Homo sapiens: one gene and its partners. The protein of the gene in region 1 purifies or fractionates together with the protein of each later gene. This does not show direct contact. Each region holds a gene or a part of one and is shown in the gene's direction. Other genes may lie near its edges. The genes, in order: LGALS9B, ATP13A3, ALCAM, LRRC8A, ADCY6, ADCY9 and SLC12A2.

The links.
Region 2: the proteins of LGALS9B (region 1) and ATP13A3 purify together in Homo sapiens (affinity purification with mass spectrometry; one large-scale study listed by BioGRID and IntAct). This does not show direct contact.
Region 3: the proteins of LGALS9B (region 1) and ALCAM purify together in Homo sapiens (affinity purification with mass spectrometry; one large-scale study listed by BioGRID and IntAct). This does not show direct contact.
Region 4: the proteins of LGALS9B (region 1) and LRRC8A purify together in Homo sapiens (affinity purification with mass spectrometry; one large-scale study listed by BioGRID and IntAct). This does not show direct contact.
Region 5: the proteins of LGALS9B (region 1) and ADCY6 purify together in Homo sapiens (affinity purification with mass spectrometry; one large-scale study listed by BioGRID and IntAct). This does not show direct contact.
Region 6: the proteins of LGALS9B (region 1) and ADCY9 purify together in Homo sapiens (affinity purification with mass spectrometry; one large-scale study listed by BioGRID and IntAct). This does not show direct contact.
Region 7: the proteins of LGALS9B (region 1) and SLC12A2 purify together in Homo sapiens (affinity purification with mass spectrometry; one large-scale study listed by BioGRID and IntAct). This does not show direct contact.

The regions. Positions count from the first base shown.
Region 1 is NC_000017.11:20,457,540-20,461,039, reverse strand, and holds part of LGALS9B (galectin-9B), read left to right. Parts: intron 1-596; coding exon 597-688; intron 689-2,655; coding exon 2,656-2,857; intron 2,858-3,500.
Region 2 is NC_000003.12:194,428,003-194,431,502, reverse strand, and holds part of ATP13A3 (polyamine-transporting ATPase 13A3), read left to right. Parts: intron 1-276; coding exon 277-399; intron 400-480; coding exon 481-560; intron 561-1,187; coding exon 1,188-1,230; intron 1,231-1,321; coding exon 1,322-1,431; intron 1,432-1,728; coding exon 1,729-1,825; intron 1,826-2,585; coding exon 2,586-2,658; intron 2,659-3,500. UniProt on the Homo sapiens protein: ATP-driven pump involved in endocytosis-dependent polyamine transport. Uses ATP as an energy source to transfer polyamine precursor putrescine from the endosomal compartment to the cytosol.
Region 3 is NC_000003.12:105,365,717-105,369,708, forward strand, and holds the start of ALCAM (CD166 antigen isoform 1 precursor), read left to right. Parts: upstream 1-1,192; 5' UTR 1,193-1,692; coding exon 1,693-1,765; intron 1,766-3,992. UniProt on the Homo sapiens protein: Cell adhesion molecule that mediates both heterotypic cell-cell contacts via its interaction with CD6, as well as homotypic cell-cell contacts. Promotes T-cell activation and proliferation via its interactions with CD6.
Region 4 is NC_000009.12:128,909,633-128,913,132, forward strand, and holds part of LRRC8A (volume-regulated anion channel subunit LRRC8A), read left to right. Parts: exon of another isoform or gene 1-308; intron 309-411; exon of another isoform or gene 412-3,500. UniProt on the Homo sapiens protein: Essential component of the volume-regulated anion channel (VRAC, also named VSOAC channel), an anion channel required to maintain a constant cell volume in response to extracellular or intracellular osmotic changes.
Region 5 is NC_000012.12:48,775,590-48,779,089, reverse strand, and holds part of ADCY6 (adenylate cyclase type 6), read left to right. Parts: intron 1-832; coding exon 833-982; intron 983-1,353; coding exon 1,354-1,475; intron 1,476-1,568; coding exon 1,569-1,680; intron 1,681-1,858; coding exon 1,859-1,986; intron 1,987-2,503; coding exon 2,504-2,662; intron 2,663-2,739; coding exon 2,740-2,881; intron 2,882-2,998; coding exon 2,999-3,127; intron 3,128-3,391; coding exon 3,392-3,417; intron 3,418-3,500. UniProt on the Homo sapiens protein: Catalyzes the formation of the signaling molecule cAMP downstream of G protein-coupled receptors. Functions in signaling cascades downstream of beta-adrenergic receptors in the heart and in vascular smooth muscle cells.
Region 6 is NC_000016.10:4,109,943-4,113,442, reverse strand, and holds part of ADCY9 (adenylate cyclase type 9), read left to right. Parts: intron 1-3,500. UniProt on the Homo sapiens protein: Adenylyl cyclase that catalyzes the formation of the signaling molecule cAMP in response to activation of G protein-coupled receptors.
Region 7 is NC_000005.10:128,135,766-128,139,265, forward strand, and holds part of SLC12A2 (solute carrier family 12 member 2), read left to right. Parts: coding exon 1-43; intron 44-2,831; coding exon 2,832-2,959; intron 2,960-3,058; coding exon 3,059-3,143; intron 3,144-3,500. UniProt on the Homo sapiens protein: Cation-chloride cotransporter which mediates the electroneutral transport of chloride, potassium and/or sodium ions across the membrane. Plays a vital role in the regulation of ionic balance and cell volume.

The DNA.
Region 1 (3,500 bases):
CTGAAGGTGGTCAGGAGGGCAAAGGTCATGGTGGCCATTGTTATATGGTGGTGGTGGGGAGAGGTGCATGCCTTCTTCTTGACACTCTCTGGTGACCCTCTCGGTGGAACCTGCAGACCCTTGATGGGTCCCTTTGTTCCCTTGGGCCTCCTGAGTCCCCAGCCAGGGCGCTGGGCACTTTGCTGGGAGCTTGGCATGGGGTCCAGCAGCCCCATTGCTACCTAGTTCCTTACCAGCCCAGGGCGTCTGCCTGCTACTTCCCTGCCTGGAAGGAAGGCCTTCCGCCTGGAGCGTTCCTGGTGTGGCCTCCGCTGCCTCTCAGACTCTCACACAAGCTCAGCTCCCTGTCGCGTCCTCTCAGGGCCAGGATTCTCCTTATCACAAGCTTAGACTGTCTGAGTAACTAATTGGATTTGTGTCTGCCTCCACACAGGACCCTAAGACCCGTGGGGCTGAGACTCCTTCTGTCCTGGTCACAGCTGCACCCTAGCCCCTCGCATGGTGCGGTCACACCCAGGCCAGCCACTGACTAGCCCCGAAGGGGAGCAAACAGGAGGCCGGCCACCTGACTGAGGCCCCATGTCTTCTCCCTGCAGGCCGTCCCCTTTTCTGGGACTATCCAAGGGGGTCTCCAGGACGGATTTCAGATCACTGTCAATGGGGCCGTTCTCAGCTCCAGTGGAACCAGGTGTGTGTATATGGATGGAAACGTTTCACTCCAGCCTCGTCCCTTAGTAAAGCCACTGTGCCTGTGAGCCTCGGTTAGTTCAAACAACAACATCCAAGCTCACGTGCCTGGCGCAGGGGAGACCCAATGCATCCTTAACCCATGCCACAGGACAGCACTCCACAGGCACAACCTGCACCCAGGGATGCCATTAACCTGGACTCCAGGATGAATGGGGCCCTGGGAGCTGAAGGTCTAAGGAAGGAGTGGGATGGTCAGAGTTGGATGATTATGTTCTGGGCTGAACCTTGCACACTGTGACTGAGAGTTGCAAAAATCAAACTTCCTCCGTTTCCCATAACTGCTTTCATCCACTCTGAAGCTCTCCTTCTGCTGACATGAAAATACTGAAAATTGACATCCGAAGTAATTTGGTCTCTTTCGGTTTCAAGGCCTTTTCTGGAAACTACTAAGTCCATTCAAAATACTAACATTGTATCAGGGCTGTTTCCCACCCCTTCCTCCCTCCCAAGGTGGGCTGTCTGGGAACAGAGAGGAGCTCACGTGGCTTGTCAGTGGCTGGGAGGGCCCCCGACCCTCACGCAGGCCTGGCTGACCCCTGCCGAGGCATCCTGACTGGGTGGCACAGAGGTGTGCAGCTCTCTCCTGGTTTAGTGAGGGACCACGGGTGGCTGCCTGCTGAAGTCTGCGGGGCCCACAGAAGAGCCTCTGGACTCATGGCTCTCTCTCGGAAGCCTCTCTGCCTCAGTCCCAGTGGACCTCTCTTAAGACCCTCTGGGCCTCGTAGATGCCAGCTCAACCTCAGCTCCGCCACCTAGATTCTTGATGACCTCCTCCGCCATTGCTATCCTGCTGTCGGACTTCTCTGAGAGCCTGCAGTGCCCCCAGGAGATGCCAAGGGCAGGGAGGCCCTGATCCCCCTGAATCCTCCAACCGGGGGAATCAGAACCATGCCTCTGATCTTCCACCCCTTCCTCTTTCCCTCTCCCTCTGTTTCCCCCACCTCCCAGCACCAGGAGGGCTTCCCACTCCCATCCTGTTGCACAGAGACAGATCCTACCTCAGAGGGCCCTCTCCTCTCAGGAGCTTTCTGTCTCTCCCTTCCTTGGGGCAGGAATTTCCAAAGGGCCACAGGAATGAAGCTGAAGGTCTCCAAAGGAAAAAAATACATGCAGTGATATTTCAAATGCAATCTTCTCCATTTATTCATTTAATTAATTTATTTTTTTCTTTAGAGACAGGGACTTTTTTCTTTCACCCAGGCTGGAGTGCAGTGGTACGATCATAGCTCACTGCAGCCTCGACTTCCTGGGCTCAAGGGATCCTCCCATCTCATCCCCCAGAGCAGCTGGGACTATAGACATGCATCATGATGTCTAGCTAATTAAATATATATATATATCTTTTTGTTTTTTAAGTAGAGATGAGATCTCGCTCTGTTGCTCAGGCTGGTCTTCAACTCCTGGGCTCAAGTGATCCACCCACCTTGGCGTCCCAAAGTGCTGTGATTACAGGCGTGAGGCACTGCGCCCGGCCCCGATTTCACATGCTCTTTACATTTGTTCTCTTCTTTCGCACTTAATCAGGCATGTGCTGGCCTCCAACAAGTGTCCACTGGCACAGAAGCCTCTCTCTTCTAGGTGTGCTTAACAACTTCCATCTTTGTTACCAACTGGTAATCACTTTCCAGGACCTATGCTTCTTGTTTGCTAATGCCAGCACTTTCCCTTAGCCATTTTCTACTTATGTTTAGAAAATCGTGCTGTAAAGGCAAAATGCAATAATCGCACAAAAACACATTGGATCCAAATTAGAGAAACAAAAACGATGCCAACCAAGCAGTCTCTGCCACGCAGGTTGTATGCAAGATCCCAGACAAACACAGGGCAGAGGCACCGAGGCCCTCCTGTGCCTGTCACTGGCAATAATCCATGCCACAGAAGACTATTTGCTTTTCCTGGGCCTAGGTTTGCTGTGGACTTTCAGACGGGCTTCAGTGGAAACGACATTGCCTTCCACTTCAACCCTCGGTTTGAAGACGGAGGGTATGTGGTGTGCAACACGAGGCAGAAAGGAAGATGGGGGCCCGAGGAGAGGAAGATGCACATGCCCTTCCAGAAGGGGATGCCCTTTGACCTCTGCTTCCTGGTGCAGAGCTCAGATTTCAAGGTAAGCAGGAATCCCCTCCCCACCTCTCGCCCACGGGACTCCCAGCCCTATCAGGTGAATGTGAATGGCCTTTTAAGTAACCACTTTAATTGACATTCAGCCAGAGTGACACCACCATACAGATAACATGACCATTTCCTTGTAAGGGTGTTACCCATGGCTGTGTAGTCTCCTTACGCACCTTCACCTGAATCTACAGGTGCACCTCCTGCTTCTTTTACTCTGAAAATAAGAACTAGAGGAGTCATCACGTTGCTGTTAGGTGTTGTGTGTCTTTGAATTCCAAGCTCATTCCATTCCTCTGCTATCACCATACCTCCTCTCCAGGTCCCTGGTAACATTTATTTTTCAGCGACATTGTTCCAGCCTTTATCCAGAGTCTATTACGGTTATAGTTCTGTAAGCACATTGCAAATTACCTTTGCAAGCACAGTAGGTCTCTGGGCTTGAGAAGCCGGTGGGTAACTCAGTCTGAATATGCTTATCTGAGATAAGGATGTTCCCATCCATTCAGTATGCAACCCGATGTCACCTCTCCTCTGCTCCCCGTGAGCATTTTATGCATATTTAAATAATACCCCTGCAGTCCTAAAAAGGAATGAGATCATGTCCTTTACAGGAACATGGATGGAGCTGGAAGCCG
Region 2 (3,500 bases), on another chromosome or scaffold:
GTTTTAAAGTACAAGAATTCCAGATGTTTATCGTATTCTTCAGGTAACTAGTGGTAAATGATGCAGGTGGTCCATCATACTCAGTTCATGCATCATTTCAAATTGAAGCTGATATTTAATTGAGTTTCTTTTTACTTTGAATAAATGTCCGGCTTTCATCATGTTGTGGAACATATCAAATGAAAGAATTCAGTTTTAGAACAAATATGTTTAAAATAGAATTGTTTTACTTGGTTTGGTTGCCTAAATATTGTTCCCAATGTCTCATATACACAGGCTATTCCGGTTAAATTGGTCCATGATAGCTTAGAGGATCTTCAAATGACTCGTTATCATTTTGCAATGAATGGAAAATCATTCTCAGTGATACTGGAGCATTTTCAAGACCTTGTTCCTAAGGTAAGTAATTTGGGTGTATGTGTGTGCTCACATGAATGCATCGCAACAGTATTTTAAAAAAATTTGTATTATTGTTTCCAGTTGATGTTGCATGGCACCGTGTTTGCCCGTATGGCACCTGATCAGAAGACACAGTTGATAGAAGCATTGCAAAATGTTGAGTAAGTATTGGTGTCTTTTTTGGTTTTGGTTTTTGATGAATGATGGTTTCATTTCAGCATCAGAAAAATAATTTTTATATGTTTCTTATACTAATATTTCATATTTATATATATAATTGTGATCTATAAGATAGTTCAGAACTTTAAGTGCCGCTTTAAAAGAGTCTCATGTGCTTTTTATTTAGCTAAAGTACAATATCCACAGTTTTTTCTCTATGACTTCATTCTTTCAGGTGCTCTATCTTGATAGAAGTGGCTAATCATTTTAGTAAACAGTTATGTTTCAGGTTATTAAGGGATAAATTTTTACTGATAACGTTAAAAGTAGCCATACTAAAGACTGTAGGCACAAGCGCTTTGCTCTAAAGATGAGGAAATTGAGACACCAAAATGATTTGCCGATAATGTGACAGAAATAGGACAATAACCTAGCTCATTTCACTTGTGGTCTGGTGCTGTTTGCAAAGCAGCACACCTGTGTTCATTATAGTGAAAAGATTCATAGTTCCACTGGGGGAATCTTGGTGTGTTAGCTCTTTATAATACTGTAATAGAAAAGTCTTAATAAGTTAAATGTTTTGTAGTTTAAGAAATTAATTAAAATCTTAACATTGTTTTGTTTCTTAGTTATTTTGTTGGGATGTGTGGTGATGGCGCAAATGATTGTGGTGTAAGTATAGTTTTTGTGATTTAGTTTTATAGTTCTTACTCTAGCCTAAATCATATTCACAAAACTTAACCAGTTTTCTTAAAATTATTAGGCTTTGAAGAGGGCACACGGAGGCATTTCCTTATCGGAGCTCGAAGCTTCAGTGGCATCTCCCTTTACCTCTAAGACTCCTAGTATTTCCTGTGTGCCAAACCTTATCAGGTAGTACAAATTAAAATTTTTCTCATCCCTTTTTCTCTGTCTCTGATAATACAGAAGAGAAAATTATCATAAAAAGTAACATGAATTTGTTTAATATTAGCAGATTAGCACATTTGAGCTGTAACTTATTAGTAACAGATTGATTGCTACTCCTCATTTGGTTTAGTTCTTTTGGTGGATAAGCACTTTGTTGTAGCCGTTGAATGTTGATGTTCATCTGTCAAGATAAAATTGTGGTTTGGAAAAGGAGTTTAAAATGCTTCTATTCATATGCCGACATTTGATTTCTTTTCACAGGGAAGGCCGTGCTGCTTTAATAACTTCCTTCTGTGTGTTTAAATTCATGGCATTGTACAGCATTATCCAGTACTTCAGTGTTACTCTGCTGTATTCTGTGAGTATTAACATTGTGTGCAGAGATAACACTTAATGTGCACCGTAAATTAAGATGTTGAGCGTATGTGTTTGATTTTGAATGCATCCATTAGTAATTGTTTCTGTGAGTAGTACCTATAAATTTACCTTCAATTTACTGTAGTTTGAATAGCAAATTGAAAAAGTTAAAATGAGAAAAGATGTTTCAACAGTGGTTTGTTGAATTTGGAGAATGGTTTGCATTTGGAGAAAAAGTATAAACAGCGATGGCCACAGGTACCCTATCAGATTTTATAATCAAAGTGTTCTGACATCCTAAAGACTCATGGTGACACTATCCCATTTGACCGTTTGTAGAAAGTATCAGAAGGGATGGTATTAGATGAAGATACTAATTTACAACGTTGAATATTTTGAGTAAATGTTTGTGTTTTCTTTTTGCCAAAAAAACCATGTTGGCCAGGGTGGTCTCGATCTCTTGACCTAGTGATCTGCCCGCCTCGGCCTCCCAAAGTGCTGGGATTACAGGTGTGAGTCACCGCGCCCAGCCTATTGAACGAATTTTAAGGAGATGCCTTTTATACTAATATACTAAATCAAATATTTATAAATATATGTTATATTTAGTTTCAGAGACACTTATATTTCAATTTTTAAGCAGGTCCGAGTGTCATTTTTAAGTTGTCATTATAGGGAAAATCCAAACTATTAATAAAACCTGGGGACGCTATAAAAATAATTCCCAAAAACTAATAATGTTTTTAAAATTACTTCTGTAGATCTTAAGTAACCTAGGAGACTTCCAGTTTCTCTTCATTGATCTGGCAATCATTTTGGTAGTGGTATTTACAAGTGAGTATTTTGCTTTGTTATTGATTTTTAAAGTGTATGAAATTCTGATGTGACTTATTAAATTTTTGTAAATTTACATCAACAATTGTAACATAGCTCACACCTCTCCAGATTCCTTGTAAATATGTTATTTTATTACCAGTTGTTTATATCTTGCGCCAATTTTTTAATTGTTCTGTCTCTATTTTTTTCCCTGAAATATTTGAAAATAAGTTTTGAGTCATTATGCTCTTTTGCCTCTGACAATTTTAGTATATATTTTCTAAAAGCAAAACCATTCTTTTATGTAACTAAATACAGTTGTAAAGATCAGGAAATTTAACATTGATATAATATCTGGTGCAAAACCTATATTCAGGTTTTGTCATTTGTGTCAACAATGTCCTTTATGCCTATTTTCCCGTAGTCCCCTAGATTAGAACAAAAAATATCTCCAGACATTGCCAGATGCTCCTTTGGGGTGCAAAATCCTCCAGTTGAGAACCACTTATCTTTAGTAGATGATAAAACTAGTGAAAGTTTGATGAGGAGCAGGATTTTCACAGTCTCAAAGTATCTTTTCACAAGGTGCTAGTTACAAAGGGAAAAATAGAAATTTCTTTTTTTCTTTTTTTTTTTTTTTTTGAGACAGAGTCTGTCTCTGTCACCCAGGCTGGAGTGCAGTGGCACGATCTCAGCTCACTGCAACCTCCGCCTCCCGAGTTCAAGCGATTCTCCTGCCTCAGCCTCCTGAGTAGCTGGGATTACAGGTGTGCACCATCATGCCCTGCTAATTTTTATATTTTTAGTAGAATCGGGGTTTCACCATGTTGGCCAGGCCAGTCTCTAACTCCTGACCTCAA
Region 3 (3,992 bases), on another chromosome or scaffold:
TGATGAGAGTTGTGATCCTGCATCCCTGATTTAGAGCCACTTAGGGCTCCGACAGCTCCACCCCGGTGTTCTAGAGGAAAATCTTCCTTCATGCTCTCTGCCTGATTTGAAAGCAACACAGCTTCCCGATGTTCCTCCTGGGAGGTGGTTCAATCTTTAGAAATTGCCTAAGAAGCCTGTCCATCTGCTGGAGTGCCTGGCTTTCGGGAACGGACCAAGACGGACTTGGCTTTTAATCTGAAATAATTTGAGGATTTTCTGTCTATAACTTAAAATCACCGCTTAACTCAAAGTAAAAAAGTGACACGCTCTCTAGAGGGCTTTTGTAGACATTGGGAAAATCCGTATGACGAAGTACGGTTTAGAAATTCCGGATTTAATTTCCCCCGGGAAAAGCAAATATCTTCTGTTGGTACCGGGCAGTCGACTCACGTAGTCTTCCTTTAAAACCAAGTCTATGCCAGCCGGGTGTGAGGGGAGTGGTGGGGGTGAGCAGGGGGAGGAGAGAGATTCGAAAAGTACAGGAGGAATCAGTCCAGTACAGGGGTTGCCCCTGCCAACAAGTAGCTATTCCTGTTAACTCCCAAGAAGCAAGTTTCCACCTTTGCCACTTCCTCCTGCCCTTTCCTTTCCTTTTCCCTTCACTCCCGCTCTTGGACCCAAGGTTCGCTCCCCACCGCCACCGCCCTGCCCCACTATTCTCTTTACAGGACAGAAGGCTGCAGCAGCACGGCGGAGAAAAATCTCTGAGGAATGAGTCAGTGGGATGGGCGTATGGGTGGAGGGAGAGGGCAGTCGATTTTTAAACCTCAGCGAGGGTGGGTGGGCAGTTGGAAGCCAGAGGCCTTATCACTGGGGCGCTGCAACATCACAGAAAGTGTTAGTCCCAGGGCTCTCCCTGGCGCGCGCGGCTCCTGTGCTTGCTTCTTATTGGCGGACCTGGCCCTGGGGGCGGAGCCGCGGTGAAGCACCGCTCATCCGGGCTCCAGGACCGGGGCACGCGGTTCTCCCTGATCCCGGAGCTGGGCTCAGGGCTCGGACTCAGTCCTGCAGCGCCTCTAGGCTGCGGATCCGCGCTTCAACCACCTGCTTTGCGCTGCGTCCGGGGAAGTGGGGAGGAGACGGGAGGGAGGGAGGAGGCGGGGAGAGGAGGAAAGAGGCAGCTTACACACGCCTTCCAGTCCCTCTACTCAGAGCAGCCCGGAGACCGCTGCCGCCGCTGCCGCTGCTACCACCGCTGCCACCTGAGGAGACCCGCCGCCCCCCCGTCGCCGCCTCCTGCGAGTCCTTCTTAGCACCTGGCGTTTCATGCACATTGCCACTGCCATTATTATTATCATTCCAATACAAGGAAAATAAAAGAAGATACCAGCGAAAAGAACCGCTTACACCTTTCCGAATTACTCAAGTGTCTCCTGGAAACAGAGGGTCGTTGTCCCCGGAGGAGCAGCCGAAGGGCCCGTGGGCTGGTGTTGACCGGGAGGGAGGAGGAGTTGGGGGCATTGCGTGGTGGAAAGTTGCGTGCGGCAGAGAACCGAAGGTGCAGCGCCACAGCCCAGGGGACGGTGTGTCTGGGAGAAGACGCTGCCCCTGCGTCGGGACCCGCCAGCGCGCGGGCACCGCGGGGCCCGGGACGACGCCCCCTCCTGCGGCGTGGACTCCGTCAGTGGCCCACCAAGAAGGAGGAGGAATATGGAATCCAAGGGGGCCAGTTCCTGCCGTCTGCTCTTCTGCCTCTTGATCTCCGCCACCGTCTTCAGGCCAGGTGAGCAAGGGCCTGGGAGCAGCCCCAGACAGACGTGGGCCTGGAGCAGTTTCCTAGGTCCCCGTCCCAGCCTCGCACCCCCGAGGCAGTGCGCCCAGGCGCGTGGTGGAGGTAAGGGGACCGCTGTCCTGGCACAGAGCTGTCCCCGGGCTCGGTCACCTGTGCCGCACGTTTGGGCTTGGCTGGTTAGCTCAAGTTTGGGCATCAAGCTGGGGAAACTGGGTGAATCTCCAGGAACTTGGTGCTCCGGGGTGGGCAGGATTCGCCTGACGCTCTCCCCTTGTCCCTGCGGCTCCCAGCTAGGCGGCGGACTCTTGCCCTCTGACAGTTCCTCCTGTCTCTGGGTATCCAAGTCCACGTCACTGCGCCCCGAGCAGTTTTTCTTTCGCTTAGTTCTCGGATGAAATAACTGCCGGCACTTTTTCGTGATAAATCCCCTAGTAACTTCCCCTTGGTGAGCCGAGGAAGGGATGGGAGGGGTAGAGAAGGAGAGGACTTTAATCACCTCCCCCCGCCCCCCTTGCGAAACCTGCTAAAGCTTAAAATCGTGGTTTCAACGTTACCCCCTGCGGTCCCCGTCCATTGTCTGGGCGGGTGGTGAGTGAAAGGGTGACCGCAGGCAGATAACACAGCCAGAACAGGAATTAGTAGGTAGGCCTGGGAGACACCTCAGTGAGAGGTTTGTGAATTTCCAGGACCTGCTCATAGAGCCTCAGTTCTCAGTTCTGTACTGAGTCTTGGAAGAGAGAGAGAGAGAGAGAGAGAGAGAGAGAGAGAGAGAGAAAAGGCAAAATTCCCAACAACTAAAATATCTCTCGGGAAATCCCTTTCCACACCCTCGGGGACGTCCCCTGGCCCTGGTATCCTCAGGCCCGCCTGGCGGCTGACACAAGTTGTTCTAACAGGGTATTCCGTGCGCTCACAGTTGCCTGACAGAGCAGCAGGTTCCTTTGCTCCCCTAAACTGAAAATTTAGGGGATTTTTTTTTCTTTGAAGTTTTTTTTTTCTATCCCTGCGTAGACAGTTGCCAGTTAAACTCCTACTTCCTGGTATTTTGGCCTGTTTGTTCTTAGCTTTTTCTTTAGCTTTTATCAAAGAAAAATCTCACTTCCTTTTATCCGTGCACATCCCTTCAGCTGTCGGCAAGCTCAGGTCACAGAAGAGGTTTGAAAGCCTCTGAATCTCTCCCAGGAACTGGCGGGGAGAGGGGTTTGGGGGCCAGAGCCTGAGGAAGAGATTACAAGTGTTTGCGAGCTGCTGCTGCTGCTGCCGTTGCTGTGTGTGTGGGCGGGAGGAGTGCCCTCTCCAGATCTCTTTATTAAAGTTACATTTCTGGGTGAGGTAATGAGCTCACCTGATGTTTCTGAGGCTGAGGGAAAAAAAAGGCGTCTGCGTTCTCTGACAAATCTCGGGCTCTGGGGCGGGGACTGTGAAACCATAGTTCAACCGGATTTAAAGCAGGTGTCCTAGTGTAACAACGCTGGGGAGGTAGGTGGAAAGGCGAGACCCCCTTGGGCCTGGCACAGTGTGGATTTCACTTTTTCGAGATTCCACTGTCCGATGGAGGAAAGGACACTTTGGAGCCAGGGAATGAGCCAAGAAGGGAGGACAAGGGTGATGTCGGTTTGTAACATGCAAACGTCCACACGCCCACAGTTGGTTTTCCGATTAACCCCCTCGAGACTTGGAGAATGTAATCTCACCCTCGTCCACACCCCTGACACAGGCACATAACCAGTTTCCTTTTCGGTGCCGTCACAGGCGGGCCACGTCGCAGGATAGGTTTTTCTACACATTTAACTGCTAAAAGGGGGAAAGTTCCGCTTTCAGACCTCCTTCACGGTGGTTCTTTTGGCGCCACAGGCTCGTGTGTCCAGGGGGCACCGAGCTGCGCGCTTTCGGCGAGCGGCTAGCCCCGGCTCACCGCAACCAGCCACCGTGAATCTGAGGATCCGATATCGGCCCTGGACCCTCAGATCCGTGGTTTCGGTGAATTACCGAGCTGGCATTGCCGAAATTCTCATTGCAGTATCAGTGTGTTTTGAAAGGAAAGGTTACAGCACTAAAGGCGCCGTGTCTACACTGAGGAAGCAAGTCTTGGACAGTAAGTGCGCCTTCTTCGGAGCCCTCTGCATAGCAGAGCCCGGTGGGGGCGCGGTGCCAAAGGCCGGCTTCATTTGAGCGGGGTAACTGCCTTCCCTGCCGGCCACTCTTCATTTCCGGAGCA
Region 4 (3,500 bases), on another chromosome or scaffold:
GGGTTCCTCTTCAGCAGGGATGTGCTTGGGCAGGAGGTCCAAACCCGGGGGTTCTCTCGCAAAGCCGGGTGGTGGGAGTCAAGACTTAGCCTGGAGTTTGTGTCTTCCTCAGCTTGTTCCCAGTCGGACTTGGAGGCAAGGAGCCAATCCGGGTCCACCCAGGACAGAAACTGTGTGGGTGGCCAGTGCTGGCTGAGGGGAAGCCTTGGATGGTCTCTGCAGCTCCCACACACCTTTCTCCACTGCATTTGGTGGTGTCAGAGGCAGAGTTGGGCCTAGATGGGGCTAGTTTGTTTCTGCCTGCCCTTCTGAAAAGGAAATTGTGCAAATCATTGTCACTGGGAGTTTGGGAGGCCACACCTTCGACATACTTTCAAGACTGTTGGTGGTCTGTGGGTGCCAGTCTCTTACCTGGCTGGGGAAGCCCCCATCCAAGGGCCCCTTGGTGGAGGCAGGCAGTGTGGATGGAGGGCTGGGTACTCCTGTGGCTCTGTGGTCTGGCCTCCGAAATGGAAACAAAGCCACTGCCATTGTGGGGAACGTCCCTCTTCCACCCGTCCTGGGGACCTGCAGGTTTTCCTGGGCCTCACATCCAGGTGGAGATTCCTGTAGTGAGACATGTGGTGGAGGAAGCCTGAGGCCAGGCGCTGGGAGACAAGGGAGAGCCCAGCCAGCCACCCTTCTGCCCCCGACACAGCAGCAGCTGTCGTGCCGGGCCCCTGTGAACTTCACTAGGGATGCCACCAGGTTCAGGAGGCTGAAGAAGAGACTCGGAGTTGACCAGGCCCAGTGGGTCAAACCTGTAATCCGAGCACTTAGGGAAGCCAAGGTGGGGCGGTCACTTGAGCTCAGGAGTTCGAGACCAGCCTGGGCAACATAGGGAAACCCCATCTCTACCAAAAATACAGAAATGATCCAGGCATGGTGGCATGTGCCTGTAGTCCCAGCTATTTGGGAGGCTGAGGCAGGATCGCTTCAGCCTAGGAGTTCAAGACTGCAGTGAGCTATGGTTGTACCACTGTACTTCAGCCTGGGCAATAGAGTGAGACCCAGTCTCAAAGTAAAATGAAGAGCCCTGGAGCCGGCCATTGAAACATGGGGTTTATTTGGGGGAACTTACTTACAGGGTGGTCCAGCAGCAGTGAGCCAAATAGGAAAACCACTCCTGCTTATAAAAAGCGTGCAGCTCATAGAGCATTTTCACTAAGCACCCTCCCCTCTGCAGCCTCCGTGTGGCAACCCGCGTTTCTTAGTTCGGTTGTTGCTGTTGGGTGCATCTGCCATGCAGCAGCCCCACGGTGCAGTCCCTGTTGGTTTCGTGGGCACCTGCTCTGTGTTCGCCCTGTGCCAGGCATGATGCACCTGTCCTCCTTCCACCAACCTGCTGAGTCCTCCCAACAGGGTCTGTCTATAGCATCCTCAGGCACGGAGGGAGGTGGCCCCTGGAATGCCCGGTCTGTCTATAGTATCCTCAGGCACGGAGGGAGGTGGCCCCTGGAATGCCCTGTCTGTCCTCCTGGGCCCCAGGACAGGACACACCTTCTCCAGCATCACTCAGACTAGATGCTTCAGGCCCTCCAGATGCCTGCTGGCTTGGAAGCCTTCCTCCCCTCTTCCCCAGGGCTCCCTTACTGCAGAGCAACCTGCAACCCACATGTATCAGGGATTTTGACAAGTCCTTATCTCCGGCCACCCCATATTATGACTTGAGCACAGTGGGAGAGTGGACCAGGGCAGGGTTTTCTCTTGTAGTTTCGGGACAGGCCCACTGAATAGGAAAACTGGAGTCCCCTGGGGAGAAGCCACATTTGGGAAGCACAGAACAAACCCAGCCCTTCTTTAATCTGTGGAGGGGGAGACCCTGTGGCTTCCCCATAGCACAGTGCTGCCCTTGATAAGCTGGGACTTCCTCACAGCTCCTGCCATTCCTGCCCTGTCCCGGGTGCTGTGCTGGGGCTGTCCTCCTGGTTGGGGGAGGGTTCAAGCCTCCAGCCTGGCTCCCCATCCTGTCCCCCACCCCCAGCTCCTCCCGCCAAGCTTGCCTGTTAGTGTCATGCCTGCTGGCTGAGGTCACCCCTCAGGAAAGGAGCTGGCGGCAAGCACGCTGTCCCAGAGGAAGGAGACCCTCTGGACACCCTGTTTAGCACATGGCTTAATCACATCCTGTCCCCACCCCCTGGAACACCAGAGCCTTAATAGGGAAAACAGTTCACTTGGGCCAACCCCAGGCAGGCCCCTCATTCTGAGTGGGAGGCCTGAGCCCCTCTTCCTCCTCACTCGGGCTTGATGGCTCCTTCTCAGCCACCTTGGCCAGTGGTGACCAGGAGGGGTGGGCGTGGCCTGCCCACGCCCTTGCGTGCTGTTTCTCCAGATTTATACTCTTGCTAATGAAAGCCTTGACAAGACAGTATTCATTCGTTCACTCGTTTACTGATGTGTGCAAATTGTTATGTTTTGTTTGTTTGTTTTTTTGGTAGAGACAGGGTCTCACTGTGTTTTCTAGGCTGGTCTTTAAACTCCTGGCCTCAAAGCCTCCCACCTTGGCCGCCCAAAGTGCTGGTATTACAGGCATGAGCCACTTCGCCTGGCCTTTGTGCAGATGTTTTTTGAGCACTTCTAGAATCCAGCTATGGAGCAAGGCGCCGGGGACATGGGGATGAAGAAGGCCAAGTAACGAGGCAGTTAGCACAGTGCGTAGGCGCTCTGCTGGAGCACCAGGTCCCTGGGAACACAGAGGAACAGGCCCCTGAAGAACGAGGAGGAGGAAGCCAGGTGGAGGGGAAAGGGACAGTCCAGGAGGTTCTGGTGGGGAGGAGCAGTGAGATGGGCTGCCCAGGAATGTGGGCATCCTGGAGAGCAGAGGTGGGGCTATGGGGGGGGGTGTGGATGGCAGGGGGGTCCTGTCCTACACCTCAGTTTCAATTGTCTCTTCATTTGTTTAACAGCCGATCCCTTGCCAGCCCATAGGCTCTGATGACTAAGACCTAGCTCTTTTGTTCAAGCAAGTGTTTACCGAATTCCTAGTGATTGAGTGGGTGAAGGAATGAGCTGACTTGCAGCGTGAGGTTCCTCTTGCGGTAGTGTGTGGGGTGGGGTGAGTGAGAGGTGGGAGGTGGAAGAGAGCTGTTAAGAGACCACGATTAGCCATCAGGTGAGGCCACGGGGCCTGGCGTGGCCAAGGCAGGTAGGGATGGAGAGACATGGACGGATCTGGGAGACGCTGGAGGGGGAATTCAAAGGGACGGGAGTTGATGGTGGGGGTGGTCTGAGTGACTTGAGCTTTTTTTTGTGGATTGTTGAGACTGGAGGAAGCACAGGTTTTCAGAGGCCAAGGTGTGTCTCATGTCAGGTGTCTGGGGCTCTGGGATGTCCAAGGGACCATCTTGAATCCACCTGAAGCCCAAGGAGTCACCCTTTCCAGGCTCATGGGTGAAGATGGGTCCTTGACTTGCTCACTGTGGAGAGCAGAGAGGGAGAAGGACAGGAGTCTGCAGAAGAGG
Region 5 (3,500 bases), on another chromosome or scaffold:
ACCAACATGGTGAAACCCCGTCTCTACTAAAAAAATATACAAAAATTAGCCAGTCATGGTGGCAGGTGGCTGTAATCCCAGCTACTCTGGAGGCTGAGGCAGGAGAATCGCTTGAACTGGGAGGCGGAGGTTGCAGTGAGCCGAGATCAGGCCACTGCACTCCAGTCTGGGTGACAGAGCAAGGCTCTGTCAAAAAAAAAAAAAAAAAAAAAAAAAATGTGTTATTCAGTGTATAGAAGACACCTACAGAATCCTGGCATATGGTAGGCAGCCAACAAACTAGCTACCATAATAATAATGACAATGGTGATTATTGTTACTAAGTTATGTCAAGTCAGGGAGAGGCTTTAGAGATCTTCTCATTCTTCCTCTTTGGGTTATAGATGAGCAAACCCAAGAGAGAGGAGGTGACTTGTCCTGGGTCACTCACAGGAGGATGTAGAGCTCAGGTCTCCTGGGTGCTGTCCTTAAGGAGGAGCACCTGCAAAAGGAGCAGCGTTTGTCTTTTGTGTGGGGTGTTTGAGGAGCAGGAGATACAGGGTGCTGGGGCTGGGCCCCATGACTTATCTGGCCCTAGTTGGTCTTCTGCTTCCAGAAGCTGTGAAAAGATCTCATTTCTAGTCATGGAGGATTCAGGCAGTTGGCTGGGATCTGGGGTCCTGTGGGTAATGGGAGAGATATATTGCAGGGGTGGCAGTGGCTTGGGGACAGACAGGGTGCAGGACCCTGGCTTCCTTCCTCAGAGAACCTAGCAAGTTGTGTGAATGTGTGTGTGTGTTTAGGGGGGCAGGCAGAGGAGATGGTCACTGTCTGCCTCTGCCACCTCCTGCAGCTCGGTGCCAATGTGCTGCTGTTCCTCTGCACCAACGTCATTGGCATCTGCACACACTATCCAGCAGAGGTGTCTCAGCGCCAGGCCTTTCAGGAGACCCGCGGTTACATCCAGGCCCGGCTCCACCTGCAGCATGAGAATCGGCAGCAGGTGGGGCTGCTCCCCGTGACCAGGGCCTGCCCCCACCTTACCCCCAAATAACTTGCACATTGGATCTGCTGCCTTGTCCAGTTCCGTGCAGCACAGTGTGATGGTTCCCCTGGGTTGTGCGTCACAGAGGCCCTGTGATACTGGGGTTTTGTCCTGTCCAAGGGAAGGAGGGCGTAGACAGGAGCACATCTGGGGGCTCAATGGAGGGTGGTCAGAGGGGGCTCTGATGGGGGAAGGTCAGGCCACAGTCCAGAAGGGAAGGTCAGGTCTTCAGAGAAGTCTAGGAGGGCTCTGGCGATGTGGAGAGACCAGGAGGGATTGCAATGTGAGACCAAGAGTATAGTGATGCCCTATTGGAACCACTGGGCTAGGAGCGGCTGCTGCTGTCGGTATTGCCCCAGCACGTTGCCATGGAGATGAAAGAAGACATCAACACAAAAAAAGAAGACATGATGTTCCACAAGATCTACATACAGAAGCATGACAATGTCAGGTAGGGTGAGGGTAGGAGGATGCCCAGCAGGGCGGGGGGTCTGGAAGTCTTTGAGGGCTATGTGTTCTGTTCATCCTCTGCTGTCATCTACAGCATCCTGTTTGCAGACATTGAGGGCTTCACCAGCCTGGCATCCCAGTGCACTGCGCAGGAGCTGGTCATGACCCTGAATGAGCTCTTTGCCCGGTTTGACAAGCTGGCTGCGGTGAGGGTGCTGGGCCTTGGGATTGGGCCTGGGTGTTGACCGTGGTGAGAGCATAGCTTTGCTGGCAGCAGCTGGGGATTTGAGGGCAGATAGAGTATGCGTGGAGGGTGGTGGGCCATGCAGGCTGGGTGGGCAAGAGAGTAAAGGTTACCCTTCCCTCCAATTCCTTCCCATTCAGGAGAATCACTGCCTGAGGATCAAGATCTTGGGGGACTGTTACTACTGTGTGTCAGGGCTGCCGGAGGCCCGGGCCGACCATGCCCACTGCTGTGTGGAGATGGGGGTAGACATGATTGAGGCCATCTCGTAAGCAGTGCCCCATTCCTAGGCTTCCTGGAATTGCGGGTGCCCCAGACTGCTCCTACTTTTTGATGAGACCTCAGGAGATTTCCTCAGTTTTGGCTTTCTCTGTCTTTGAGGTCTGTCTGTCACTGGGAAGGGGAATCTTTCTCCAACCTGTGCAAAGACCCATGCGGACCCCTAGACTCCCAGCCAGCCGAGATGGGGCCGGGAGAGCCTATGCAGTAGGGGAGTTGGGCTAGAGGGAATGCCATCTGTGCAGGCCAGAGGGGATAACAGTGATTCCTCTTCTCCTAGCTCAGTTCCATAAGATGCTGCTGGGCCCCTGCTGTTGAACACAGCCTTAACATTTGTCCTTGAGCCCCATGCAGCCTTCTGCTCATGTCCAACCAAGGCTGTGCTCCCGTCCCCTGCATCTGGGTCTGTCCTTGCCCGCTGGGCCCTGAGAGGAGTGAAGGGCCTGGGTTGTGGGCTGGGGGAGGGGAAGACTGCCAGGAGCTGATCTGGGGCTGCATCCTCCCAGGCTGGTACGTGAGGTGACAGGTGTGAATGTGAACATGCGCGTGGGCATCCACAGCGGGCGCGTGCACTGCGGCGTCCTTGGCTTGCGGAAATGGCAGTTCGATGTGTGGTCCAATGATGTGACCCTGGCCAACCACATGGAGGCAGGAGGCCGGGCTGGGTGAGTAGGGGGGTCCAGGTGGGGGGGATGGGGGCAAGGTGGGAGAGCCAGGGTCTCACCCTCTTGGCCACATACAGCCGCATCCACATCACTCGGGCAACACTGCAGTACCTGAACGGGGACTACGAGGTGGAGCCAGGCCGTGGTGGCGAGCGCAACGCGTACCTCAAGGAGCAGCACATTGAGACTTTCCTCATCCTGGGCGCCAGCCAGAAACGGGTCAGGGCCAGGGCAGGGCTGGGGGCAGGGGAGCAAGAAGAGGGACAAATGGGGAGGAGCAGGCCAAGGCCTCCTCTGGGCCCCTCTTCTGAGCCTGTACCCATGCTGCCCGCACAGAAAGAGGAGAAGGCCATGCTGGCCAAGCTGCAGCGGACTCGGGCCAACTCCATGGAAGGGCTGATGCCGCGCTGGGTTCCTGATCGTGCCTTCTCCCGGACCAAGGACTCCAAGGCCTTCCGCCAGATGGTGAGGGGCCCTCAGCACCAGACCTAGGGCCTCATTTTCTTAGCTCCCTCAATACCCTGTCCCTGACCCTGTCCTTTCTTGTGACTGCCATTTCCATGTATGCTTTCTGGTATTGGGGCAGTGAGAAGATTTCATCTCGGGTCCCAGTGCCCCCAGAGGATATGACGGGGACACCCTCAGCACAGTGTTGGGGTGGGGGAAGGAGCTGCAGAGATGAAGGTTGTTGGCCCTTCACCTCACTCCACACTCTGTCCCTTTCTCCAGGGCATTGATGATTCCAGCAAAGACAAGTAAGTCAGGTTACTGAGGAGGGAGAAGGCACTTGCACCCTGGGATGGGGCTGGGGGGAGCCGAGATCCTCCTTTTCCCTGAC
Region 6 (3,500 bases), on another chromosome or scaffold:
ATGGAGCCCTTCAGCATTCAGCACTGTTTAGCACTTAAGGAAATTGCCTTTGCATTCATTTGGTCACCCTGAAGTCCCATCCAAATGTTTCTCTCTGCCCTTTTTGCGAAAACGTGGAGAATAAAATCTTTCTCCTCTCTAGGCCTCACTTTGCTTATCCTCAAAATAGGGATAGGAAGTCGGCGCAGTCCTGCAGGTCTCTGGAGAATTAGACGGAGTTACTTACCTCTGAGTACACACTGTCTTTTATCTAGGTCTTTTTTTTTTTTTAAAAAAAGTTTGCATTTTCAGCTTTCAGCCATCATTTGTTTAAGGATATTTTATTATCATAGTATTTGCCTTAAGTGAAGAGCTTCATATTGAGCTTCTCCAGCCACCAGGTGATTTGGAAGGGAGAAACGTACCTGCCGGAGAGCTGGTATTCCCCTCCCTCATCCTCTCAGGTTTGGATCTGGTGCCTGGTCCCTGGTTTGAAGCTCCTTACTGCTATTCTTGATGTTTTTACTGGGCTGCTTGTTTTTTCTAATATAGGACAAAAGTCTTTGAGATCTGGAAAATGATATTAAAATAAGTAGGACGAAAAAGAAAGATTTTAAGTAATCTGCTACATTTCTTCCCCCACTTCCTCCTTTTTAAACAGTCCTTATGTTTTACTAAAATCTTCAGGATTGAGGGGAACATCTGTTGTGGAAGTATGTAGAGAAAATAACACTGATTTTTTTTAAAAGCCTGCTTTTGTGAAGCTGTATTGTATTTTGTGGTCCCCACACACTGCATACTTAAACAGTTAAAAGCCTCAGGAAAGGGAATCCTCGGAAGAAGTAATTAATAGTTCCAATCAGAGATGGCAGAAGTAATAGTTTCAATCAGAGACGGCAGAAGTAATAGTGTCAGTCAGAGACGTCCAGTGGTTGAGGTAGGGCCTGCATAGGTCGTTGGTGTGAGATCATCCTATGTGTCCAGTTGGCATTCTCTTTCTCTGGCTTGTGATCTGAGCTCCTGTATCTTTTATGTATTTGTTCTCTGGCAAGGGAACATCATCTTTCTTCTGATTTTTCTTTATTTTACTAACTTTGCTGTTGAAGATTTTATGGATGTAGACGAAAACTATTTTCACCCGAGAATTCCCCTAACCTAGAGCACTTTAAGGACTATGTTAACAAGGTCAGAAACTACACTTTCTGTTCACTTGAAAGATGCTGCCGTGATGAGTGTCTTTCCGTTTAGGGCGGTGGCACTCGCTCTTGAGTCTGAAGGTGTCAGTGGACGGGGCTGTGGGTGTAACCCCCTGCTTGCCACCTTGGCATTTTTAGGGCCCAGGTGTTGTGAGCTCTGTCCTTGGAGACTGTGGGACGGTGGAGCTGGGCGGCAGTACGTTAAATTAAATATGTTGGCCCAGAGGACAATGAGAACGTTTTGTAAGCTGTACTTTGTATGCTGTATTACTCGAATTTCAAAAATGAAGAGGGTGTAATTATTAAATATGTTTGGAAATTGCCAAGTCATTGAATACCTATTTTGTGAATTTATGAGTAGTTTTATTTTTAAGTTTGTAGATCAGGGGTCTCAGACACAGAGCCAAAAAAAAAAAATGCTAGAGTGAGTTTGTGTTTTTTTTTTTTTAAACCTCAAATAGTGTAAATTTGGTAAATTAACTTTTCTTGACATTTGTGTACATTGTATATTTATAAAAGTTTTAGTACTGTAGGGAGTAGGGAAGATAGAAGGCTTAGCTTAGCTGCTGATTTTTTAAAAGTGATATTCTTTCCTTTAGCTCTTTCTCTGAGACCACGATTTTGTTTTCTTGAGCTCATTTTACAAACCTTTGTGGATAGGACTCCAGGAATAGAGTATGTCTACACAACTTCCTGGCCCTTTTGGAAACTGTCCTTACAAAGCTAAATTGAGATGACAGCACAGTTTGTAGAAGACCCTTTCACACACATAGTTAAGCTTATCTACATGTAAGATCGATTTTAGCCTCTGCCTTTGGGCTGGTGGCAGATGTTTTCTCTATACAATATTGGGTATTACGGGAGGCTGAGGCAGGAGAATTGTTTGAACCCGGGAAGAGAAGGTTGTAGTGAGCCGAGGCTGCGCCACTGCACACCAGCCTGGGCGACAGAGCAACTCTGTCTTAAAAAACAACAACAACAAAAACAAAAAAAACCCCAATACTGGGTGTATTAGCCTTTCCCTCTTACCCCCTTTTCTGATCCCAGGGTTAAAAAGCAGCCAGTAGCGGCCCTGCAGGAATGGGCATCCATAGAATGAGAAGGGGCTTCTAGAACTAGCCTGGGAGCACAGAAGGAAGCTCCTCTCATTCAAATTTATCCGAACAGGCTTTGCAGAAGGGTAGTTTCATGATTTCTGCACATTCCTTCACTCTGAAATCTGTGTCGTGCCCCTGGCACTGACTGTGCACCTGGCACTGTGGATGTGGAGCAGGATCCGTGATCGTGGAGCAGGATCCGTGATCGTGAGGTAGGAGGTGGGACTCGACTCCAGAGGCGGGGTTCAGATGCCAGACCGAATTGAGGACTAGCTGATACAGGGATGGGGCAGAAGCAGCGTTCTGCAAGGCACGCCCACCAGTGTGCCTTGTTAGTTTACTGTCGCCATGGCCACACCCGGAGTTACTGCCTCTTTCCATGGCCGTGACCTGACAACCCAAAAGCCACCACCCTTTTCCTAGAAGTGTCTGCCTAAGCCTACCTTTACTCTACAGGAAATTAAAAGTAGGTATAAGGTAAGGCTGGGCGCAGTGGCTCATGCCTGTAATCCCAGCACTTTGGGAGGCCAAGGCGGGTGGATCACCTGTGGTCATGAGTTGGAGACCAGTGTGGCCAATATAGTGAAACCCCGTCTCTACTAAAAATACAAAAATTAGCCTGGTGTGGTGGTGTGCGCCTGTAATCCCAGGTGCTCGGGAGGCTGAGGCAGAAGAATCGCTTGAACCCAGGAGGTGGAGGTTGCAGTGAGCTGTGATCATGTCCACTGCACTCCAGCCTGGGCGACAGCCTAGGCGAGACTGCGTCTCAAAAAAAAAAAAAAAAAAAAAAAAAAGTAGGTATAAGTATGATTGCAAAACTGCCCTGAGCTGCTACTTTCCGCCTTTGGGAAAGCCCAGCTCTGCAGGAGCAGTCATGGAGCCGTATAACACTGCCTGCCTCTTCAATAAAGGTGTTTTCTTTCCTGCCACCGGCTCACCCTTGAATTATTTCCTGGGCAAAGCCAAGAACCCTCTTGGGCTCGGCCCCACTTTGGGGCGCGTCTGACCTGCGTTAATAGTTCCCAACCTCCGTGAGCTCACAGTTAAAAATGTTGTGGAGTATGTTCGGGAGTGGGGAGCGCTTTAGAGGGGGCTCCTGCTGGAGCTGGGTCCTGAGATCAGGCTGTGGCTCTCCAGGTGGACAGAAGAGCACCAGGGCAGAGCGGAGAGGTGGGTATGGCTGGGCCCTGTGCTTCTCTGTGGGGGCGGACGATTGTTAGTTGTTCAT
Region 7 (3,500 bases), on another chromosome or scaffold:
CCACTGGAGAGCAAGAAGCCAAAAGGGTTTTTTGGTTATAAATGTAAGTAAAAAAGATTCAATATTTTTTAAGGGTACCTATTTATAGAATTCTATCATCAATTAAATTTTGTACATTTCAGATATTTTGTAACAGAATTGACTATGGTTTGGTGATTCACCCTAATTTACAATTTAGTTTTGTCCCCTTTATGCTGTACAGTTGGAGTAAAAATTACTTCTATTTACATCTTTTCTTTTTCATTATTAGCAACAAAAGGTGATAGAATATGGAGAAATCAGTGCTGCTAAGAAAAGGAGATTTTATTCTCTACTAGTTTTGGGAATTTGTAACTGAATTTCTAACTTTTGTTCTAATATGACTTTCATTCTTTTAACATATTTAAGCACAACAGTATAAAAGCGCCTAAGATTGTGAAAGCAATTATTGGTATAATTGCATTTTTCAAGAGTGCAGGCCATTTGATTTTTAGGAGATCTCTCCAGTTGGGTTTGTCTTATTTGTTTTTATAGATTCAGGTTATTTATGTTTGTCAGGAACGTAAGTGAACCGTGTCTCCTTCTCAGTCCAGCACATTTGGAGGGTGCATGATGCAGTTTTTTATATTACTTAGTGGTGTTAGTTTTGATGACTTAGTCAAGGTTATACCTGCACAGTTTCTCTATTGTGAAGTTGCTGTTTTTTTCTTTGCAGTTAGTAAGTGATCTGTGGAAGAATACTCTGAGACTGTTCATAGCCCTGTCAAACTTCTACCAAATGGCTTCATCCTTAACCCCTCTCACATCTGGCTTTTGTTGGTTAAAATATGTCAGATGGTGATAGATGCACTATGAATTTTTTGTCCTCTGCTTCATTTCTCTTAGTCATTCCTTCTCCTTCTTGAAACATGTCTATTTTATTCGATGTCAGATACCCTAGGTGCCTAACTCACTGGTCACTATGTCCATTACTCCTGTTACCCCCTTTAAATGCAGAATTTTACAACTATTATAGTGCTGACCTTCTAACTATACACTCTCCCTTGGGTGGTGTGTATTCTCATGGCTCAAAATGCTATTAAGGGACTGACATGTTTCTATTCCTGAATCTCTCCTTTAAAGTCCAAACATAAATATATATCCAACTGATTATTTGAAGTCTCTCCTACTTATTTCTTCTCAGGCTTTTCCATCTAAGCAAGTAGCTGAAACCAGGATCTTAGTGTTTCCCGTCCTACCTGCTCCTCTTAATTTCTAATCCTTTCCTAATCAGTGTATTTATTCTCCCATCTCTAGATTGAACCTCTGCAGCAACCTCCTAATGGGCCTCCCTGTTATCAGATGTTGAATCTTTCAGTCCATTGTCCACACAACATTAATAGTATATGTCATTTGCGTGTTTATGACCCTACTTTGGTTTTCCATTTTATTTAGGATAAATTTAACTTTTATAAAATATTCACACTCTGTTCCTCAGTGGTCACTCCAATTTCATTTAATTTTTCTCCTTACTATAAGAATTTTATCTTCTTTTATTTCCTCAGAAGAGTTAAACCTTTTTCTACTTTGGGGTCTTCATATATGTTGTTTCTCTTTTCTGGTATACTCTTTTTCCCTGATGATCACATGGCTGATTCTTGCTCAGCAAACTCTTAGCTTAAGTATTGTCTCCTTCCTTATATTTGCTTAGCCTTCTGTAACCACATTGAATTAGATTCTCTCTCTCTCTCATTTGTTATTCACAAATCCCTGTTTCCATCAGAACATTTACTGCTGTTTATAATTACCTGTTATTTTGGTCATTTGCTATTGAGACTCTTAAATTCCATGAAGGCAGGAACAATGTCTAACTTGTTTATATTGCATCTCCAAGTACTTTGAGGTGCTAGAAAGCTCTAGTACAGGACCTGACACATAGTAGCTGCTGAAGTATTGAATGGATAGATGGATACATTACAGTTAGTCGGTTATCTTAGAGTCAGAGATGAAAACACTAGGTCTAGTTGAAGCTTTTATTGTTGTTGAAATAGAAAGGAACTTTACTTAGGGTAGCTAATTGTCTGACAGCCTCAAAAATCAATAGGTGACTAGACAGCAGAGAAAGCTGTGGACCAAAATCTATACAGATAGTAAAGTAAGTTGGAAGCTATCAAAAAGTTGATTCTATATTATTATGATGTTGCTTTTGTTTTCCTTTTTTTTTTTTTTCTTGAGATGGGGTCTCACTCTGTCACCCAGGCTGGAGTGCAATGGCATGATCATGGGTCACTGGAGTGTCGACTGTCCAGGCTTAAATGATTCTCTCACCCCAGCCTCCCAAGTAGCTGGGACCACAGGCATGTGCCACCACTCCTGGCTAATTTTTTAATTATTTCTAGAGTCAAGGTCTTCCTTGTGTTGCCCAGGCTGGTCTCAAACTGCTGGGCTCAAGAAATCTGCCTGCTTCGGTCTCCCAACGTGCTGAAATTACAGGCGTGAGGCACCACGCCATGCCCCCTTTTGTTTTTCTACCTCCCTTCTTGCTTCTTTTACCTCAGAGATTGAGGGGATTATCCACATTTTGATTTGCATTTGGGCTAGTCATAACAATTCATTCAGAGGCTCTTGAAACATAATTAGCGAGGTATACAAAAAATGAGACATGAATCAGATCAGATGATCATTTTGATGGTAAACCATTGTCTCATACAAGAAAAGAACACCAAATACTTGAACTGGGAAATATGCAAAAATTTACTCGTTACTTTAACTGAAGAAAAGTTAGGGGTCATGTATACCTATTATTCTTGACCTCAGTTATTATAGTCTAATTTGCTCTCCATTAATTGTCAAGAATATTTTGTTCTCTGCAGCTGAAATATTTAATGAGAACTTTGGGCCCGATTTTCGAGAGGAAGAGACTTTCTTTTCTGTATTTGCCATCTTTTTTCCTGCTGCAACTGGTATTCTGGCTGGAGCAAATATCTCAGGTGATCTTGCAGTAAGTATTATAAAGTGCTATATCAATTATATATTTTAAAAGTGGAATTTGTATATTTATTTTTACAGATAGACTTTAAAAAATCTTCTTGTCTTCTAGGATCCTCAGTCAGCCATACCCAAAGGAACACTCCTAGCCATTTTAATTACTACATTGGTTTACGTAGGAATTGCAGTATCTGTAGGTAAATAGTTTCACATTTCTTTATGTGTCGCAGAAATTTCATGATGTACGTACTATAAATACTTATTTTTATGACATTTGCTAACTTTTTTAAATACAGAAATATTTCAATAAAAAGACATGGAGTTGCTCATTATAATTCAAAAACAGTTTTTAGAAAACTAGTAATGACTTCTATAGACATTATCTAAACCGCCAAATGCTTTATGGTATCTCCAGGATTTTTATTAATTATGGTAAATTAAAAAATTATATGAAATTGCATCTATAAACTCATTCCACTGAGATACTGAAAACAATGTATGTGTAGAAGCAAATGAATTTCACTCTTACAAATTTCTGTATTTTTTTAAGATGG